2 separate regions of the Homo sapiens genome follow, and region 2 is linked to region 1. Evidence: fine-mapped expression QTL. A gene starts in region 1. The other region holds a variant in brackets. All regions are shown on one strand. Distances are from middle to middle. Region 1 holds the start of MGAT5 (alpha-1,6-mannosylglycoprotein 6-beta-N-acetylglucosaminyltransferase). Region 2 has its middle 22 kb from the start of MGAT5.

Region 1 (5,000 bases):
CCAGAAACTCAGCTCCCAAAACCACTTTGATACGTTAAAGTTGATTCGATGAAAGAGAAAACTAGCAGTGTCAGTTAGAGTTGCTGATGTGACCTGTTTGATTGTTTCTTTGTTGTTTTTGAGAAAAAGACAAATTATTTTGCTAAGGTTCATCTACGAAAGTAAGTTGGAATAAATAATTTCTATAGTTTCTTTGAGATGCAAAGTCTTATGATTACAGGCATATAAGGTGGCTGAAATTCTAACAGCCTATTCTGGGATTTTTTTGTAACTTAAAAAATAATATTTCTGTGAGGCTGAAAAGCTAAGACCAAATTATTGTCCTTTAAAATGTGGGGAAGCCTTCCCTATGAGATTTTCATCAATACACAAGAAATACAAACAGCCAAAACAACTGCAGAAATTTAAAGCCTATAAATTTGCTATTTGTGGGGCTTCTTCTTGCCCATGGAAAAGGTTTGACAGACTGAGAGAAACAAGAGAAAATTACCACTGAGCTGTAACTCTTTCCCTTCAAAGCTGTAACATGAAATGCATACAACCAGAAACTTTAAAACTGCACCTGTGTTACCTGCTGTGTCATATACATTGGTAACACTAATGGTGACAATCAGCTTTATTTTCTGTTGGTTTATCTAAACTACTCTGGAAATGTTACACAAATGTGAGTCAATGAGCAATTTTAAAATGCAACTCTAGGAAAAACTACCTAGTTACTTTTCAGTGTAAGCTCCCACAGTGGAATCTCATTTTTTAAATCCATCAGTTCAAAAAAGGTACCATTTTTTTAGATATATTAAAAGCCAATGCCTACAGACACTTTTAACAGATTAAATGCAGAGTGTGATTATTTACATAGTAAGAACTAGAAAAGAATTTCTAAAATGTTCCTCAGAAGTAAGCATCTTCTAATATATACACATACACACACACACATACACATACGTGTGTATAAAATTTTACATACTTTTTTAAAAACAAGTTTTTTTCCCCTTTTGGAAAGAAAGAAGCACATGTATAACTGAGTATGATTTCCTGTGTCTGAACTCAACCTGCACTGAACTGAACTGTTGCTGCACATTTTTGGGAATCACGATTTGAAATCGGCATACTTCAGGGCACCTTCCTTGAGTGGGTCACAAAACACAACTCCACTTTCTCCACCTCACCTAACCCCATTCTTGCATCTCATCTATACTATCAGGGAGACCACTTCAGTGAGACCACTGAAACCTCAATTCAATGATCAGACTCTTGTCACTCAACAACAGGTCATCTTCTACAGACCAAGTCTGCTCTGCAAAACACAGCATGATCTAAATTCCATTTGCAATTTTTTTCCAAGTATTTGTGTGTGTATGTGTATGTATATATATATGTGTGTGTATATATATATGTGTATATATGTGTATATATATGTATATATGTATATATATGTATATATATATTTGTGTGTGTATGCAAAGTATCAGAAAAATACACACTGAAATGTTAATTGTGGTTATTGCCTGGAGTAGTAGACTTATGTGTAATTTTTTTCTTTTTTTGCTTGTCTACAGCTTCCAACTTTTTCTATATTAAACATAAAAGAAAAATAAGTTACATCCCATATGTGTATTTTTTTACTCTTTCTGATTTCAAAAAGAATTCTGAAAAAAATTCTTTAAAGAAAAAGCAACAAGTACACAAAGATTCCTTTCAAAGTGAGGGCAGTTAGAGACAAGGGCAAGAAGAAGAGCAACATAACCTCAAGAAGCCAAAGGTTAAAACTCACCAGCATGCAAGTGCCAGTGTCATATTTATTGGCTGGAGGGAGGAACACAATTGGCTCTAAGTTTACTGGCTTCCATAGAACATTCCTCCCCATCCTCTTCACCTCACCCCCACCAGCCTTAATTAAGTTTTGTTTAGGGAAAGATGAGAATATTTTTCAGCATTCCCTGAACTCACTCCCACATGAGATCACATGGTTCCTGAAATGTGTTCAGGGAGAAGGAGCTAGCTGCAAACACAACCAATAGAGCCCTAACTATACTAACCCACTGACTCCAGGGGAAAGTGTGTCTGCATACACCAGCTCAGAACCCCCAAAATGGCATTGCTTTAATTTCCTAAAGATGCCTCTCTGTGTGCAATTCACTGCTTATGAAGGCAGTGGCAAAGGACATTCAGTCCATGACAAGACCATATCTGGGAGCTTCTAGGGCCATTTCAAGGCCAAGGCACACTTTAATGGAGAGGTCCCAGAAACAGTGCTTACCATAAGCTGTCATGACTCCAGCGTATGGCCCATCCACCACATTCCTGTTTTCTTCTGCCAGTGCCTTGATGTACCTTTTGCTGAGGTCCAGGATCTGCTCGCGCAGCATGGAGCTGCTTTCAGGCTGAGTTCGCTGCTGGATGGTAAAGTGCAGAAGCATCATACCCCAAATGAAGCCAAAAGTCACCAGGAAAAAGCCCAGCTTCTGAGAGGACAACTTCCACGGAGTGAAGAGAGCCATTGCTCTCTGGCAACTTCACCTGTCCTTGGCTCTTAACGCGTAGAAGATAGACACAAATTCATGGTGTAGGTTGAGTGTGAGAGTCTGCTGGTCTCACTCTGGCTCCTGTGTCAGCTGGTTGCCTTTCCTCACTTCCATTCTGCTGTGAAGGAGGAGAAGAATTAGCCAAGTGGTCATGGCACAATACAGCAAAATAAACCAGAAGCCATGTTTTCACTTGAATACCTCTAAGTAAAATGTCAACTCTTAAATTTGCTGGTTCAATATCTTATGATTCAGGAACTGTAAGCTGAGGGGAAATCTGGCTAGGCAACAAGAAGCTAAGCAATTATGAAGGGGGAAGTGTGCGTCTGCGTGTGTTAACAGGTGTAGTGGGGCTGTTCCAGCCTGGACCAAATTCAAAACAGGAAGTTTGTTTTGCAAGGTGGGGAGGAGACAGAAGGATATTTGGCGGAATGTCAGCAAAAACGGGGAGGGTGGAGTCATATCACCATCAGGCCCTTTTGTGTGCCTGTAACTTAAGCTTACAAAGTCATTATTATGTGCTTCTGGCAAGGACTAGAACATGCAACTGGTGAGGTGAGCAAGAAAGTGGATGCCCCCTTGGGGGTAACTAGACAAAGAAGAGGTAGATTGCTACATCTTATTTGAGCATGGCCAGCTTTCACCATCAGTGTTTAGTGATGAGATGGCTCTCTCAGGGCCACCAGGCAACCTCTCTAGGTGCACCAGCACAGAGAAGATATGCCAGAGGTACAAGCAGGGGTATTGCTTTCCCAGCTACATGAGGAAAAGGTACACCTCACTGCTCACTTGCATGCTGTAGCACAAGAAATGTGGAACACCTGGCAGGCAGATTTTCTGTGGTTCTCACTTTCACTCCCACCATGAGGCAAAATGAGACATTAAAAGGCAGAGTAGTTTCAATATTAATGCAGCCAGATCCTATCTAATGCCAGCACAGACCAGGCCACTCTTCTCAATCAGGGCTTCCCAACAAGTAGGACCTGAGCATAGGTTGCAAATGGTTACCAGCATGCCCACCCCTTCAGCCAGAGTCCTGGGCCCAATACCAGTCAGCTTACGAATAGCGCCATTTTCTAAGTGCCACTCAAGGGAGAGGCTGAGCAATGATCCGATCCCTTATAAGAGACTAACCCAGGCTGTACTTCAGAGTGTACATACATGCTTCAGTCAAAGGATTCTTCTTTGCAAGCGGCCCAAAAGAAAATGGTAGCAGGATCTTGAAGCAATTAGCTTTCAGAGCCCTGGATCACTGTTGGTCTGCCTCTTACTGTTTTCCCATTGCCTATCAACAGAGTAAAAATAAATTATAAATTCTAGCTATATCCCAGATATTGTGACATACCATCTTTTGTGGCTTTGCTCACTGAATCCTCAGAAGTTCTATATGGTAAGAAGTATGAATATTATCGTCTCTGTTTTATTAGAAACATGAGAAAATAAAGGTAAAAGGTGATTAACTTGGCAAAGGTCAGCCAGCTATGTGGCAGAGGACTGATCATCTAGGCATGGCCCAGGGGTTATTAAACCATGCCCCACCTTCCCTACATCATCCTCACTCCCCCAACAGCCTGTTTGTATATGGCAGAGAATGATATATATATGCTTAATGGGTCATGAAAAGCAATAAAAAATATGTAACAGATACTCTTTGTAGCCCAGAAGGCCTAAAATATTTACTATCTACCTCTTAACAGAGAAGGTTTGCCAACCTCTCAATTCTAGACCAGTGGTTCTCCAAATGTGGTCCCAAACTCAGTAACAGCAGCATCACCAGTGAGAAATGTGAATTCTCAGGCCCCACCCACACCCACTGAATCAGCAACTGAGGAGATGTGGTCCACAGCCTATCCTTTAACAAGCCTCGAGGTGATTCTGATGCACACTCATGTTTCAGAGCCCTTGACCAGGCAGCCTGATTCCAGACCCATACATTCCATCACTATTCAACACCCACCACAATGCCTATTAAAATGAGGCTCAACCTCTGTCTTGTACTATCATAACGTAAGTTCCTCTGCCCCATCACACCCCTCTCCCACTACGTACCTGCTGGTCTGCTCATTACCATAAACCCTGCACATGCTTCCTGAGAGGCTTCCCCTTCTTCACTCGGCTGCTCCTCCCACCCAGCTGGCACATGAGTGCTCTCTATTATGCTGACAATCAAACCCAGCCTGTTTGCCAGACCCCAGCTCTAGTCCCACCACCTGCCTCAGACCACTTTCCCCAGGGCTCCAGCCTGCAGTGTTCCTTTCCTAGTCTTACAACACTTCTCTGACAATGGAATACTATTCAACCAGAAAAAGAGAGAGAAATCCTGTCTTTTGCAGCAACAGGGATATACCCGAAGGACATTATGCTAAATGAAATAATCCAGGCACAGAAAGGCAACTACCGTACAATCTCACATGCAGAAGCTAAAAAGTTGCTATCATAGGAGATAACAGAACAGTGGTTACCAGGGGTGGGGAG
Region 2 (5,000 bases), 22 kb after region 1:
GTGTCTGTTACTTTATCCTAATTGCTCAACTATTCTGGACTTTCTAAACAGCAGCTGGTATTGTTCTCAAATATTGACTTCTGCTAATCACTTTCAAAGGATTCTGAGCACTGGCTTCCAGCCCTCATTCACCACCCAACACAAGCTTGTGACTTAGTCACACCTTATTGCTAATCCCAAGAAACGAAGGGAATTTAAAAGCACCTGGTGAGAGAGAAGCAGGCCTCAGAATCCAGAAAGCCTAAGTGACTTGCCCAGGGCCACAAAGACTGTCAAGGTAGGGTGAACAAACTTGTCCCCGTTGGTCACCCTAGTTGAAGGACAGAGCCACATTGCTGTGTCTTATGTATGGACCCCCATAGTCTTATAATTCTTGATATATACATACATTTGACTTTTAGCTTTATGATCTGCTCCCTGTTGAGACTCAAACTTCTTGAAGGAAGAGATTCAAATCTTTCTGTGAACTAACTACTTAATATCTGTTGGGAAAAGTCCTTGTAGCCCCCTTGGTTAATAAAGATGGCTGCTGGTGGTGCCCTTGCAAACTATAGGCATCACTGCTCTAGGAGTCTCTTGGAAGAACCTGTAAGTCTTGACTCCCACCAACCCCTGCCCCCAATCCCCGGCTTCCTTCTCAGCCCCCAACTACTTCATCACATCAATAACAAAGTATGAGAAACACAGAAAAATGAAACACATGAGCAACTTTCAACTGACTGTTTCCTTCTCTCTTTAGACCACAAAGTCTCCCTGCTCTAATGAGATTATTACCCATCATGAAAGGACATAGCATCTAGCGTTCTGATTTCTCCACTCAGAGATACACCTCAGAAGGCAGCTTCTCAGCTGTGAAAGAAGTTGGCCTTTGCAATCCTCTCTTAGAAGTCTGCTTCGGAATTATTCAAGAGAGCCAGAGTCAAACCTAGAGTGTTGTGCATGAATAGAGAGGCAATCTGGTGTGGCAGAGAGGCTTGGGAATTAGATTCAGATTAAAATCTCTGCACTGACATAAGCCAGCCCTGTGCCCTCTTGAAGTTACAGAAATGAAGATCCAGTTTCCTTATCTGTAAAATGTCTACCTGCAGGGTTTAAATTTGCAAAGGGCCTAGTCTAGTGACCGATCCTTGATGAGAGTTACTGGAGAAGTCTCATGACTCCTACAATGAGCCCCAGAGGCCTCTGTGAGTAAGGTGGAAGGACCTAGCCTTCTGCCTGATCTAAATACATTAAGATCTGCCTTTGCTGACCTAGTTTTATTCTAAAGCAGTTGTGGTTTTCTTTCTTCCCTTCAGTTCCTTTTCTCAAAGGATGTAAGCATATCTGTGTGAAACACATAAAAAAAATGCACCAAGTGTCAGCAAAATGTTACTGTAACTGATAAAAAGGCATTTTCTATCTTGTCCATCAGTTTTGATGAGGAAGCAAAGCAGACTAGCCCAATTCCTAGCATTGGTAAAGATTGCTACTTCAAAGAATTTTCTGGGTCAGCACCTAAAAGTCTGAAATCCATTCCACTGAATTCATTATGACCCATAGTAATACCCCATCTCTCAAAGCAAAACTACACTGTGATTCATTGCATAGAGCCATTCCCTGGTAGACACTATATTTTAGACTTATGAATAAAACAAGTACAGAAAACAAAATAAAACACAGAACCAGCCCTGTACCCTTATATTTTACAATCTACAAAAAACAAAGTCAGATTTACACATACCTGGAAAACAACTCACGATGACATCATTTTAAGCTAACTGAATCTTGGATTCAAGAAGAATCAATGTCTATACTATTCTTCTAGCATAAAACCTGTTGTGGCAGTTTTAACTTTTTAACTTAAGAAAGTTATGACCTTAGGTCACTAGACAGAATTACATTACTCAAATGTATTCTTGGCAAACTCTTTGGGGATATAATTCACTCTGCAAGGAAAAACTGGTAATTGCCACCAATATCTCACACACATGTACATACAAGAAGACACACCATAACACACCATAACAACCACCACCCACAGAATCAAGAAGACCCATGCCATTCTTAAATGAAAATGTGCACCAGTTAAGAAATAATCTAACATCTCAGGTTAGCAGGAAGTGCCACACTCCAACCTAACAAGAAAAATGGGCATTAAAAAAACATTACATAGGTCTGTGGTCTAT[T/A]AACAGTAACCTGTTAGTATCAACTTCCTGGTTTGGTATTGTAACAGAGCATGAAATCTGGGGAAGGATGGGTCCGTGGGTCTCTTTGTACTGTTTTTACAACTTCCTGTGAAATTATTTCAAAATAAATTGTTTTCTAAGCATTACTTATTGGGTATCATCCTGTTTGGGGAGATTTTTCAAGATGTAGAAGCCCTTTCCCAAGGCCCCTCTTCAGCTAATGGGTCCAGAATAGGATATACACCTAAATACTTTGAAAAGGGTTCTGGTTCCTAGATGATCTGAAACTCCTCCCCTGTTGAGTAAGAACCACCACCAAATGGCAGGTAAATCACTGAAGACATTTAACAGTGCTGAGGCCACCATATTTGATATTGGCTGCTGTGTAGAGGATGGGTTTGAAGGGTGGCTCATGAAAATCCGGGTGAGAAATGAGTCCAATAAAGGCCTGAACAGGGTAGTGGCAGTCCAGTCATAATAAGAAACCAAATGCTAGAAATACTTAAGAGGTCAAATCAGCAGGACAGTGGGCAATGACTAACTGGAAGGAATGAGGGAAGACGAGGAGGAGGAGGAGGAGTATAGAATGACCACTAGGCTTCCAGCTTGGGCAGCTGAGGAAAAGGTGACATGTCATTCACCAAGACAGGAAAATGGAGGAGCTGGTTTGTGAGGGAGGATGGCTGCCTGAAGCTTCCACAGAGCAATAGTACTATATCATATATTGCAGACAGAACGATCTTTGTCTAGAGAGGTAATTCCTTCTTCCTCAACTCACTGGGTGTAAAGTACCAGGGGACAGACAACTCGGCACAGCAGGCAAGAAGGACCAGCCACTACTCAGCCATGTCAGCCACTTGGCCCCGCCCTGGTCTGATCATTTTCACAGCCAGCCACAAACCCAGTGATCTTTCCCCAAATACCTCCAGTGGGTAGAGAGCTACTCAACCAAGCTGCTCCCCACAGGTTCTAGAGGGTCTGGGTTTCTAACATTTCTATTAAAAGAACTCCAGAGGGTGAATGAGGGAAATCATCCATCAATAAATCAAGCAACTAATTATTTCACTTTGCCATAATCTCTTTAAGAAATGGTGTTCCAAAGTGAAAGGAAGAATTCCACATGAGAAGACATCAAGACAGCCTATGAAGATCTTGACATAGGAATTTGTACATTGCTACACAGGAAGCATTTACCACCCACCACAGAGGAATGCAGTTTATTTGATAATTATTTGTCTAGGTTATAAACCCTTTTTGTAACAGTTTACTGAAATATAATTCACATACCATACAATTAACCAACTTAAAATATACAATATAATGGTTTTTACTGGGCTCAGAGTTGTACAAGCATTACAACAATCAGCTTTATAACTTTTCTCCCATATAAGTGCCAACCAGGCTCAACTCTGCTTAGCTTCCAATATCAGAACAGATTGGACACATTCAAGGTAGTGTGGCTGTAGAGAATTTCATATAACATTTTATCATACCCAAAAGAAACCCACACCCTTTAGCTACCACCTCCTAACCCCTCCTCCTCCCCACTCCAGCTCTAAGCAAGCACTCATTCTACTTTGGTGTCTCTATAGATATGCCTATTCTGGACACTTGATATAAATAGAATCATAATATGCAGTGTTCTTTGACAGCTTTCTTTCACAAGGTCCAATGTTGTAGCACATATCAGTGCTTCATTTTGTTTACAGCCAAACAATATTCCATTGAATAGATGCATCACATTTTGTTGATCTATTCATCAATTGATACTATTATGAATAAAACTGCTATGAGCGTTTGTGTATGACTTGATGGGTGTGTGTGTGTGTGTGTGTGTTTTCATTCCCCTTGAGTATATACCTACGAGTAGAATTACTGGGTCATATGATAACTCTGTATTTAACATTTTGAGGAACTGCTAAAATGTTTTCCACAGTAGCTACACCATTTTACATTCCTACCACCAGTGTATGAAGGTTCCAATTTCACCATATTCTTGCCAACACTTATTTGTCTCTTTAACAATTTTTTAAATTGACAAATAATTGTACATAGTCAAGGGGTACATAGTGATGTTTTAATACATAGAATGTATAAAGAGCAGATTAGGGTAATTGCATAGCCATCATCTCAAACATTTACAATTTGTGTTGGCAAGGTTCAATATCCTATTTGAAACTATATATCATGGCTAACTATAGTCATCCTACAGTGGTATGAAACACTAGAACTTATTTCACCTATCTAGCTGTAATTTGGTATCCTTTAACACAGGGGTCCCCAACCCCCAGGCAGTGGACCAGTACCAGTCCTTGGCCTGTTAGGAACTGGGCCACACAGCAGGAGGCAAGCAGCCAGCAAGTGAGCATTACCACCTGAGCTCCACCTCCTGTCATATCAGCGGTTGCATTAGATTCTCATAGGAGCACAAACCCTGTTGTGAACTGTGCATGTGAGGGATCCAGGTGGCACACTCCTTATGAGAATCTAATGCCTGATGATCTGAGGTGGAACAGTTTCATCCCAAAACAACCCCTTCATCCGTGGAAAAATTATCCGCCATGAAACCAGTCCCTGGTGCCAAAAAGTTTGGGGGCTGCTGTTTTAGTAAATCTCTCCCTATCCTTCACTTCCCCCATCTTTCCCATCTGTCTTTTTGATGACAGCCATCCTAACAGATGTAAAGTGCTATTTCATTGTGGTTTTGATTTCCATTTTCCTGCTGACTAAAGAGAGTGAGCATCTTATCTTTTCATGTACTTACTGATTATTTGTTTTTCTTTTGGGGGAAATATCTGTTCAGATCCTTTGCTCATTTATTAATTGGCTCATCTG

Evidence for each region. PIP is the estimated chance that this variant, and not a neighbour inherited with it, causes the effect. A credible set is the group of variants that fine-mapping cannot tell apart.
Region 2: its variant is the best candidate, but not a certain one, in a credible set for the expression of MGAT5 in whole blood (TOPMed, PIP 0.51).

The regions. Positions count from the first base shown.
Region 1 is chr2:134,251,905-134,256,904 of GRCh38, reverse strand. MGAT5 (alpha-1,6-mannosylglycoprotein 6-beta-N-acetylglucosaminyltransferase) reads right to left here and starts at 2,833. Exons shown (of 16, transcript NM_002410.5): 1 at 2,261-2,833. The coding sequence starts at 2,501.
Region 2 is chr2:134,229,828-134,234,827 of GRCh38, reverse strand. It overlaps a transcript of MGAT5 not described here and the pseudogene RNA5SP104. Among named protein-coding and RNA genes, the nearest start is that of MGAT5, 22 kb to the left of the region's middle. The variant T/A (reference allele first, on the strand shown) is at 2,166.